2 separate regions of the Homo sapiens genome follow, and region 2 is linked to region 1. The links come from fine-mapping of genetic effects on gene expression. A gene starts in region 1. The other region holds a variant in brackets. All regions are shown on one strand. Distances are between the middles of the regions. Region 1 holds the start of RMI2 (RecQ mediated genome instability 2). Region 2 overlaps LOC105371082 (a long non-coding RNA gene).

Region 1 (5,377 bases):
GCCATGTGGCTTCAGGCTTGTCATTGGCTTGAACCTCAGTTTCATCATCTGTAAAATGGGGATAAGACATGAGGTTATGTAGAGCCAGACTCATCTATCCCCAGTCCTCCATTTCTACTCTGTGTCCCAGCCATCCTTAACTACTGGCAGTTTGCTACATGCTTCTTGCTTTGTCTCCCCTGTCTGGCCCCTCCATGTGCAGTTCCCTCTGCCTGGAATGCTCACATGCCAGATGTGTGGATTACACCATCAAGGTGTTATAAACCCGGTGCTGACATGCTAAGACTTGTGTTTTGAAAAGATCACTCTGCCAGCAACATGGTGTTGGGCTTGTGGGAGCAGGTGCAGGGAATCTGGAGGCCAAGGGAATGATGGGGGATTCCCAGGCTCATACAAGAAGCCTGGGGGCTTCTCCCTTCACGCTAACTCCCTTCTCCGTCACTTCTCTGTCCTTAAGGTACCTCGGGGGAAGGTCAGTGAGGACCCACCAGGCATGAACGGGTTGGATTCTCTCTTGGTTAATGTTCCTGCTCCTTTCTCAGCCTAGGAGCCTGGTTACTTCATAGGTCAGGGTTGAGGTGTTGTATTAGTCTGTTCTCACACTGCTATAAAGAACTGTCCAAGACTGGGTAATTTATAAAGGAAAGAGGTTTAATTAACTCCAGTTCCGCAGGGCTGGGAGGCCTCAGGAAACTTACAATCATGGCAGAAAGGGAAGCAAACGTCCTTCTTTATGTGGCAGCAGGAAGAAGTAGTGCCGAGCAAAGGGGGAAAAGCACCTTATAAAACCATCAGATCTTGTGAGAACTCACTCACTATCACGAGAACAGCATGGGAGTATCCGCCCCCATGATTCAATTACCTACCACGGGGTCCTTCCCACGATATGTGGGGATTATGGGAAGTACAATTCAACATGAGATTTGGGTGGGGACACAGCCAAACCATATTAGGTGTAGAGGCCAAAACCTCATAGAGGCTACTGAGAGTCTATGGGCCAGCCCTCTAGCTTCCTTAAGCCTCAGTTTCCTCACCTGTGTGGAACAGTCTTTTCAGGGTCTGTGGGGGTACATGGGATACTTCCTACAAAGTTCTTACAATAGGACCTGGCTCAATTTTATAAAAATGAAGCTCTTGGCCGGGTGCGGTGGCTGACGCCTGTAATCCCAGCACTTTGGGAGGCTGAGCGGGCAGATCACGAGGTCAGGAGTTTGAGACTAGCCTGGCCAGTATGACGAAACCCCGTCTCTACTAAAAAATACAAAAATTAGCCAGGCGGGTGGCGTGTACCTGTAGTCCCAGCTACTCAGGAGGCTGAGGCAGGAGAATCACTTGAACCTGGGAGGCGGAGGTTGCAGTGAGCTGAGATGGCACAACTGCACTCCTGCCTGGGTGACACAGCGAGACTCCGTCTCAAAAAAAAAAAAAAAAAAAAATCAAGCTCTTGCTGAATACTCTCTGAATGCCTGGTACTGCAGGAGGCCCTGGGAACTCAAAGTTTCTCTTAAGAACTGACCTTGACTTTAAGGATTGCCTGATTTAGGATCTGTGGACTTTGCTGACTGGGGACATCCAATTTTTAGGGAGAGATTCCTGGGAATTTTATTTGAAGGATGCACAAAAAGATTTAGCTTTTACGGGTGGATCACGAGGTCAGGAGATCGAGACCATCCTGGCTAACACGGTGAAACCTCGTCTCTACTAAAACAAAGTACAAAAAATTAGCTGGGCGTGGTGGCAGGCACCTGTAGTCTCAGCTACTCGGGAGGCTGAGGCAGGAGAATGGCGGGAACCTGGGAGGCGGAGCTTGTAGTGAGCCCAGATGGCGCCACTGCACTCCAGCCTGGGTGACAGAGTGAGACTCCGTCTCAAAAAAATAAATAAATAAATAAATAAAAAAGATTTATCTTTTAAGTAGGTCCACAGTGGATATATTTATAAAGTGAAAAATTGGAAATAGCCTTAATGTCCAACTGTAGGATATTGGTTTAATATGTGATAAGACAAATCGAGTATTATGCAGTCATTCAAGAGGAAGCAGATGGATATTTGCTGATACAGAAAGATGTTCATTATTAAGTGAAAACAATATACAAAACACTATTTGTATATCAGTAATAGGCCAGGCATGGTGGCTCACGCCTGTAATCCCAGCACTTTGGGAGGCCAAGGAGGCAGGATTGCGTGATCCCAGGAGTTCCAGACCACCTTGGGCAACATGGTAAGACCCTGTCTCTACAAAAAATACAAAAATTAGCTGGACGTGGTGGTGCACGCCTGTAGTCCGAGATACTTGGGAGGCTGAGGTAGGAGAATCACCTATGCCCGGGAGGTGAACGTTGTAGTGAGCCGTCACTGTGCCACTGCACTCCATCCTGGGCAACAGAGTGAGACCCTGTCTCAAAAAAAATACACACACATATTTTAAAGCCTAAAGGCTAATATACCCCAAAATTAACAGTGGGTATCTATAAGCGGCTTTTACAATTATTTTCTTGTTCTACATTTTTCCCCTATTTTTTTTACAATAAATGTGCATTTCTTGTCTGAAAAATAGCAATATATTTTATTAACCTTAAAATTATTTGATGCTATTAAAATATAACTGAAAATAATAATAAAAGAAAAGGCAAGTTTGCCAGCTCTCCCCGTCTCCCTCCCCAGCCTTATCTCCTGACTGGATTCTTGCTCACTCCCAATAAACACGGACTCTTAATTCGTTTCAGTATTTACTAACCTCAAAACAAGGCAATGTAAAGATGAATAATCATACTCTGTAGGTGATCTGCATCCACGCCAAATTTTGAGATGCGTTGAAAGAGGAAGTTCTTTACCTCTCTGCCTTCAATTATTTATTCTCGTTTAACCCATTTCCTCCGTTCATTCCTAACTTGAGGGCGTTTATTTACTTTTATCTACGCATGCGCACTCCTGGCTGCTAGAGAGGGCCTCTTCGCCCGGCGGTCCCGCCTTCTGACGTCGACCATTGGCCGGCTCTGCCAGCGCGCTCCTGATTGGTGGCTGAGGGCCGGGCCCCGCTGCTTCTCAAAGTTGGCGGGAAAGCGGAGGCGGGGCGGAAGGGTGCGGCGAGGCGGAATGGCGGCGGCTGCGGACTCGTTCTCAGGCGGCCCCGCGGGGGTGCGGCTTCCGAGGTCGCCGCCACTCAAGGTGCTGGCGGAGCAGCTGCGGCGCGACGCGGAGGGCGGCCCGGGCGCGTGGCGGCTGTCACGGGCGGCGGCGGGCCGCGGGCCGCTGGACCTGGCGGCCGTGTGGATGCAGGGCAGGGTAGTGATGGCGGACCGCGGCGAGGCTCGGCTGAGGGACCCGAGCGGGGACTTCTCGGTCCGCGGCCTGGAGCGGGTGCCGCGCGGGCGGCCCTGTCTAGTCCCAGGTAATGCCCGGGCCTTACCGGGCGCCCTCTTCCCTGCTGCCCGCCGAGAAGTTGCCGAGGCCAGATTCGATCTTGTTGTTGACACTCGAACGGGGGCGGGGCGGGTCTGGCCCTCCTCCGGGCCTCTGCCCCTGCGGGTCCCCGCTTGGGTACCCTTGCTCCGGTCCCTCCTTGGTGAAGTTGATCTGATGATAAGCATCACCTGCCGTCCCTTTTACAAATACAGATTCCTGGGACTCTCCCACCCCTAGTGGGAATCTTCTGGGGAGGGACTCCGGCACCTTCGTTTGTCACAAGCCCCCTCTCCCAGTTGATATCCTTGTTTTGGGAAATACTGTCCTGGGAAACTTCTGCTCATCCTTAACGTCTCAGCTCAAATGTGCCTTTCTCAGGGAAGTCCTCCCTAGCCCCTAGGAACGGGAGACCCTCCTGTACTTCTCCTTAATTGAACTGTCTTGGGCTGTAGCTCACTCATGTTTGCCTCCTCTCTTTTTTTTTTTTTTTTTTTTTTGAGACGGAGTCTCACTCTGTCGCCCAGGATGGGGTGCAGTGGCGCGACCTCAGCTTACTGCAGCCTCCACCTCCCGAATTCAAGCGATTCTCATGCTTCAGCCTCCCGAGTAGCTGGGATTACAGGCATGTGCCACCACACCCGGCTAATTTTTGTATTTTTTAGCAGAGACTGGGTTTTGCCATGTTGGCCAGGCTGGTCTCGAACTCCTGGCCTCAAGTGATCTGCTCATCTCGGCCTCCCAAAGTGCTGGGATTACAGACATGAGCCGCTGCGCCCTGCCTGCTTCCTCTCTTAAACCACTGATGCTCAAACTTGAGCCAGCATCAGTCTCTCCTGGAGGGCTTGGTAAAGCTGGGATGGCTGGGGCTCCACCCTCAGGGTTTGTGAGTCAGGAGGTCCAGGTGGGGCTGGAAATTTGCATTTCTAACCAGCTCCCAGGTGATGCTGATGCTGCTGGTCTGGGGACCATACTTTCGACTTTTTAAATGTTTTATTTATTTGAGATAGGGGACTCACCGTGTTGCCCAGGCTGGCCCTGAGCTCAAGCAATCCTCCTGCGTCAGCCTCCTTGGGTAGCTGGGACTACAGGCCTGTACCACCACGCCTGGTTTGGGGGCCATACTTTGAGAACCACTGGGCCAGCCCAAGCTACTGGAGGGCCAGAGCTGTGTGGTCCTGACAACTGTATCCTCAGCATCTGGCCCAGTTCCTGACACATAAGTGCTCCAAGAACCAATAGTCTTGAGTGATAGGCAATGGGCATCCATCTCACTTGTTCCCTGGGATGTCAGTTGAGCACGTGTTGTACATCAGCCCCTCATGTGCAGTGTTGGGCTGCAGCCGAGACCTAGATAGAGTCTGCTGGGAGACAGGCAGTGAGCAAGTGTCGCAGAGGATCGCTGATCTTTGGGGAGCCATGAGGATGTGCAAGGTGCTGAGTGGCCCGGGGAGGCTTCTAGAGGATGTGAGGTCTAAGCTGAGGAGCTCTGAGGCTCCATGGGCCTTCCCTCACCTCAGCTCCCTCTCCTGGGAAATCAGGCCAAGATCACTTCATTCCTAAGGGCCCTTCCTGCTCAGTCTTGGAGTCTAACTAGAGGCAGATAGGGCTGTGGTCTGGCCTGAGCTGCTGTGGACTCGGAAAGGCTTAGGTCGAATTTCTGGTTCCACCCCTTCCCAACTGAGCTGCCTGGAGCACTCTTGTTAACTTTTCTGGACTTGTACTATTTTGTAAAAAGGAGCTAATCATTCCTGCGTGTTGTGTGGATTCAATAAGTAAACAACTGCCTTAGTACTGCACCTGGCTCACAGTGAGGATGCAAAATATCAGGACTCGTTTACTGCCACATGCTCCTGTTCCGTCTTCCCACTGCCTTACCCATCAGCCTTCCCTCTGTCTGCCTGCCCTCAGCCGCAGCGTTGGTCTAGGACAGGGTCAGCAAACTACAGGCCTCCTCTTTTCATGTGTCCTGCGA
Region 2 (5,377 bases), 25 kb before region 1:
CGGGGTTTCACCGTGTTAGCCAGGATGGTCTCGATCTCCTGACCTCGTGATCCGCCCGCCTCGGCCTCCCAATCATAATTGTTTTTGAGTGTTCAAAAGATACTTTTTATTTGCCTGTTTTCAAAAAATATTTCTCCCTTACTTTAGACAATTAGTAAAAGTTACAGGAGCCAACAAAAGGTGGAGAGAGCGTATCATTCAAGGCCTTTTCAAAAAACATATCAATCTGAAGAATGATAAAAAGAATATGGAATTCAAAAATTTTAAAAACTCCTTGCATTAAAAATAAGTCAGTATTTGTAATAAAATCTTGTTTCTGGCTGGGCGTGGTGGCTCATGCCTGTAATCCCAGCACTTTGGGAGGCCAAGGTGGGCAGATCACTTGAGGTCAGGAGTTCGAGACCAGCCTGGCCAACATGGTGAAACCCCGTTTCTACTAAAAATACAAAAATTTGCTGAGTGTGATGGCACATGCCTATAATGCCAGCTACTCAGGAGGCTGAGGCAGGAGAATCACTTGAACCCGGGAGGCTGAGGTTTTAGTGAGCTGAGATTGTGTCACTGCACTCCAGCCTGGGTGACACAGCAAGACTCTGTCTAAAGAATAAAAAAAAAATTAAAAAAAAATCTTGTTTTAACCAATTATTTAGTTTTGTATTAGTGTATTTTTTAATATTAAAGATGCATCTCTAGAAAGATTATTATAATTTTTAATTATAGCCAGCTGAATTATACAACTCCTTTAAAAATTCCTTTTACTGGGGAGGGATAGCATTAGGAGATGTACCTAATGTAAATGATGAGTTAATGGGTGCAGCACACCAACATGGCACATGTATACATGTGTAACAAACCTGCACGTTGTGCACATGTACCCTAGAACTTAAAGTATAATAAAAAAGATTCCTTTTACTAACCTTATTATGACTTACATAGACCATTCACAATGTATTTTTTTTTTTTTTTTTTTGAGACAGGGTCTCACGCTCTCACTCAGGCTGGAGCCCAGCGGCATGATCATAGCTCACTACAGCCTCAACCTCCCTGACTCAAGCAATTCTCCCTCCTCAGCCTCCTGAGTAGCTGAGACTACAGGCACGCACCACCACACCTGGCTAATTTTTTATTTTTTGTAGAGTCAAGGCTCACTATGTTTCTGAGACTGGTCTGTAACTCCTGGACTCAAGTGATCCTCCTGCATCAGCCTCTCAAAGTGCTAGGATTACAGGTGTGAGCCACCGTGGCTGGCCCAGGGCTGGAATTCTGACCCAAGCCCTCATCTCACAGGCTGCAGAACTGAGCTCACATTCCATTGTGGGGGAGACAAGTGATGAACAAATAAATAAGATTAATTTAGGCAGAATGATGTTTTGGAGGAAGTTAAATGATTAGATGATGTAACAGAGGATGATAGCAAAGGGGTGGAATCTAGACCAGCCAGATGGTTGGGGGTAGTGGGGTCTCTTGGCAGAAGCCGTGTTTGAACTAAGATGGGGAGGAAGAGGAGGAAGAGCCAGATGTGTGAATGTCAGAGGGAACAGTGTCCTGGGTGCAGTGACGGCACGTGCAAAGGCCCTGGGGTGAACTTAGCCTGGCGTGCGGAGGAACAGAAAGGCCTGCGTGGCCGGAGCTCTGTGAGTGATGAGGATGGAGGAGCTGGGGCTGGAAAAGTAGGCAGGGGCCTGGCAGGTCACGTGGGGAGGAGTTTGGGTTTATTCTGAAGGTGGGAGGAAGCCACCAGGAAGGACTGAAGCAGGAGGTTAACCAGATTTTTGGGAGCCACAGCCTTACCTTTCCTCAGCCCTGGTCAGGTTGGGGTGGGTGCCTTGGAGAATGGTTATGGGAGTGTCCTGAGGCCCCGAAGCCTGGAACTGTCCCAGACTTTGAGGTTCCCCATACCTGGGATCGCATTCTTGCTCTGCCACTTAATGGCTTGGTGATCTTGGGCCTATAGCTTCAGTTCTCTGGGGCTTAGTTTCCTCTGCTGTAAAAATGGGGATGTCAGCCAGGGGCAGTGGCTCATGCCTGTCATTCCAATGCTTTGGGAGACTGAGGTGGGAGGAATGCTTGAGCCCAGGAGTTGGAGACCAGCCTGGGAAACACAGAGAGCCCCGACTCTACAATATATGTATATTTTTTTAATTAGGCAGGAGTGGTGGCACACGCCTGTAGTCCCAGCTACTCTGGAGGCTGAGGTGGGAGGATTGCCTGAGCCCGGGAGGTCGAGGCTGCAGTGAGCTGTGGTGGTGCCATCCTCCCTTTGCAGAGCAGGCCTTGAATGAATACCAAGCCCTTGGCACAGAGCCAACAACCATGAATGGCGCCTGGTATTTCTGCAGTTGTTGCTGTGAGCATCCCTGCAGCACCTTCTCAGACCCAAGGTCGGTCGTGTTCTGGCTCCCTGGGGGTCCCCACTGCCCAGGGGAGGCTCTGAGGAATTGCAGGAGCCTGGGGATGGCCCAGCTCCCAGAGCACCCCATTCCTGTTTCCTTGCCAGGGCCAGCTCAGCAAGATTTCCATGGACATCAAGTGTTCTTTCCTGTGGGGGCAGTGCAAGGAGGGTCCAAAGAGCAAGCTCCTGTGCCCCCGGGGGTGGGGGTGGGTCAGGGAGCCTCAGTTTACCCACTTGTGAAAGGGCCATAGTAACCTCAGACCTCTTCAGCACTGGTTCCCTGATTTGAGGATTTCAAAGATCAGCAGACTTAAAAATATAAACATAGAGGCAGGGGTTCCCAAACCCCTGGCCACAGACCAGTACT[C/A]ATCTGTGGCCTGTTAGGAACCGGGCTGCACAGCAGGAGGTGAGCAGCAGGTGAGTGAGTGAAGCTTCATCTGTGTTACAGCCACTCCCCATTGTTCGCATTACTGCCTGAGCTCCGCCTCCTGTCAGATCGGCAGCAGCATTAGAGTCTCATACGAATGCAAACCTCATTGTGAACTGCGCGTGCGAGGGATCTAGGTTGCGTGCCCCTTATGAGAATCTAATGCCTGCTGATCTGTCACTGTCTGCCATCGTCCCCAGAAGGGACCATCTAGTTGCAGGAAAACAAGCTCAGGGCTCCCACTGCTTCTACATTATGGTGAACTGTATAATTATTTCATTATATATTATAATGTCATAACAGAAATAAAGTGCACAATAAGTGTAATGTGCTTGAATCATCCTGAAACCATCCCTTACCCACTAGTCCATGGAAAAATTGTCTTCTATAAAACCGGTCCCTGGGCCAGGTGCGGTGGCTCACGCCTGTAATCCCCGCACTTTGGGAGGCCAAGGTGGGTGGATCACCTGAGGTCAGGAGTTTGAGACCAGCCTGTCCAACATGGTGAAGCCGCATCTCTACTAAAAATACAAAAATTAGCTGGGCGTGATGGCGGGCACCTGTAATCCCAGCTACTCCAGAGGCTGAGGCAGGAGAATCACTTGAACCTGGGAGGTGGAGGTTGCAGTGAGCCAAGATCGTGCCACTGCACTGTAGCCTGGATGACACAGGGAGACTCCATCTCAAAAAAAAAAAGAAAAAAAAAAAAAGAAAAGAAACTGGTCCCTGGTGCCAAAAAGGTTGGGGACTGCGGTATGGAGGGATTGGTAGAGTTAACTACCAATTTAAAAAATTCGCCAAACATGGAGTTGCAAAGAAATCAAATACTATCTATGGTTTTCATCCCTTCCTAAAAGAAAAGATAATTAGCTGGTGCACGTGTGTTAGCTCCTATCGTCAGATGGAAGCTGGTCCCTGAAATGCCAAGTGCTGCTCTGGATGCTTAAGAACTCATTGAGAGATGCATGCCCGGGGACAGGAAGTAGCCATGCAACTGTGAGGTGGCAGATCTGGGATTCAAGTCCTCAGGGGCCGGCTCCCCCATCTGTACTTTGCATCCCTAAGGCCAGTGGTCCTCAAACATCAGTAGGCACCAGTGCCACCTGCAGCACCCACCTGGAGCTCCAGTAGCCGGGGTGGGCCTGAGAATGGTCATTCCTCACCTGTCCCCAGGTGGTGCCAGTGCTGCTGGCCCCAGGCCACCCTTCAAGAACTGCTCCTCATGGGGGCTGAGCAGGGTGGATCTGCTTGTAATCCCAGCACCTTGGGAGGCCGAGGCTGGAGGATCTCTTGAGGCTAGGAGTTCAAGACCATCCTGGACAACACAGCGAGCCCTCATCTCTAAAAGAAAAAAATACACACATGCAAACATACATATGTGCATACACATGTGCAAACACACACACCTAATGCACATACACATACATGCATATATACATGCATACATACACATACATACACGTACATACACTTACATGCATACACGCCTGCATATACACATGCACGCACACATGCATGCATATACACATGCATGCATACACAGACATGCATACACACATGCATATACACATACATGCTACACATACACATGCATATGCATATACATGCATAAACATACACATGTATAAACTCATACATGTATACGCACATGCATGCACACATACATGCATACACAAATGCATGCACACATAGTTGTATACACATACATGCATACACGTTTACATGCATACACATACATGCATACACATACATACACATGCACATGCATATGCACATGTACATATGCATACATACACACATGCTTATACGCGTACACGTATACACATACATACGCACATGCATACACACCTACATGCACACGTACATGCATTCCACCACTCTCTGCTCTCCTATGCCCCAGATGGGCTTCTGCTTTATGAAAAACCTATTCACTTGTTCTGGTTTCTCTTTTTCCTTTGAAGATGTCAGGGAGCAAACCCATTCTGGGACCCATCACATGAGACCTTCGATTGGGGCTAGGACACCAGGTCTGGGGCTCCCCCACTTCCAGGGCTGTGTTCTCATCTGACAAGATGGTGACCTCCACTGTCTCCCTCCAGGAGGCCAAAAATGTGAGGAGGGGAATCCAGAGAGATGCTTGGTGAGGAATTTTCCGGAAGATGGCCAGTTCCCTCAGGCAGTGTTAGCACTTACTGAGGGTCCGGGGTGTCCAGACATGATTTTCCCTTTGTTTTTTTTTGGTTTTTTTTTTTTTTTTTTTTTTGAGATGGAGTTTCATTCTTGTTGCCTAGGATGGAGTAAATGGTGTGACTTGGCTGGCTGCAGCCTCCGCCTCCCAGGTTCAAGCAATTCTCCTGCCTCAGCCTCTGGAGTAGCTGGGATTCCAGGTGCCCGCCACCATGCCCGGATAATTTTTTGTATTTTTAGTAGAGATGGGGTTTCACCATGTTGGCCAGGCTGGTCTTGAACTCCTGACCTCAGATGATCCACTTGCCTTGGCCTCCCTAAATGCTAGGATTACAGGCGTGAGCCACCACGCCCAGCCCCGACACCATTTT

The links. PIP is the estimated chance that this variant, and not a neighbour inherited with it, causes the effect.
Region 2: its variant is the best candidate, but not a certain one, in a credible set for the expression of RMI2 in whole blood (TOPMed, PIP 0.60).

What each region holds. Positions count from the first base shown.
Region 1 is chr16:11,342,376-11,347,752 of GRCh38, forward strand. RMI2 (RecQ mediated genome instability 2) reads left to right here and starts at 3,084. Exons shown (of 2, transcript NM_152308.3): 1 at 3,084-3,391. The coding sequence starts at 3,097. The region is part of intron 1 of LOC105371082 (a long non-coding RNA gene); the gene reads left to right. LOC105371083 (a long non-coding RNA gene) reads right to left here and starts at 2,837. Exons shown (of 2, transcript NR_135174.1): 1 at 2,738-2,837; 2 at 1-48. RefSeq lists silencers at 3,153-3,312, 3,333-3,412.
Region 2 is chr16:11,317,450-11,322,826 of GRCh38, forward strand. The region is part of intron 1 of LOC105371082 (a long non-coding RNA gene); the gene reads left to right. Among named protein-coding and RNA genes, the nearest start is that of MIR548H2, 14 kb to the left of the region's middle. RefSeq lists an enhancer at 3,468-4,063. The variant C/A (reference allele first, on the strand shown) is at 2,760.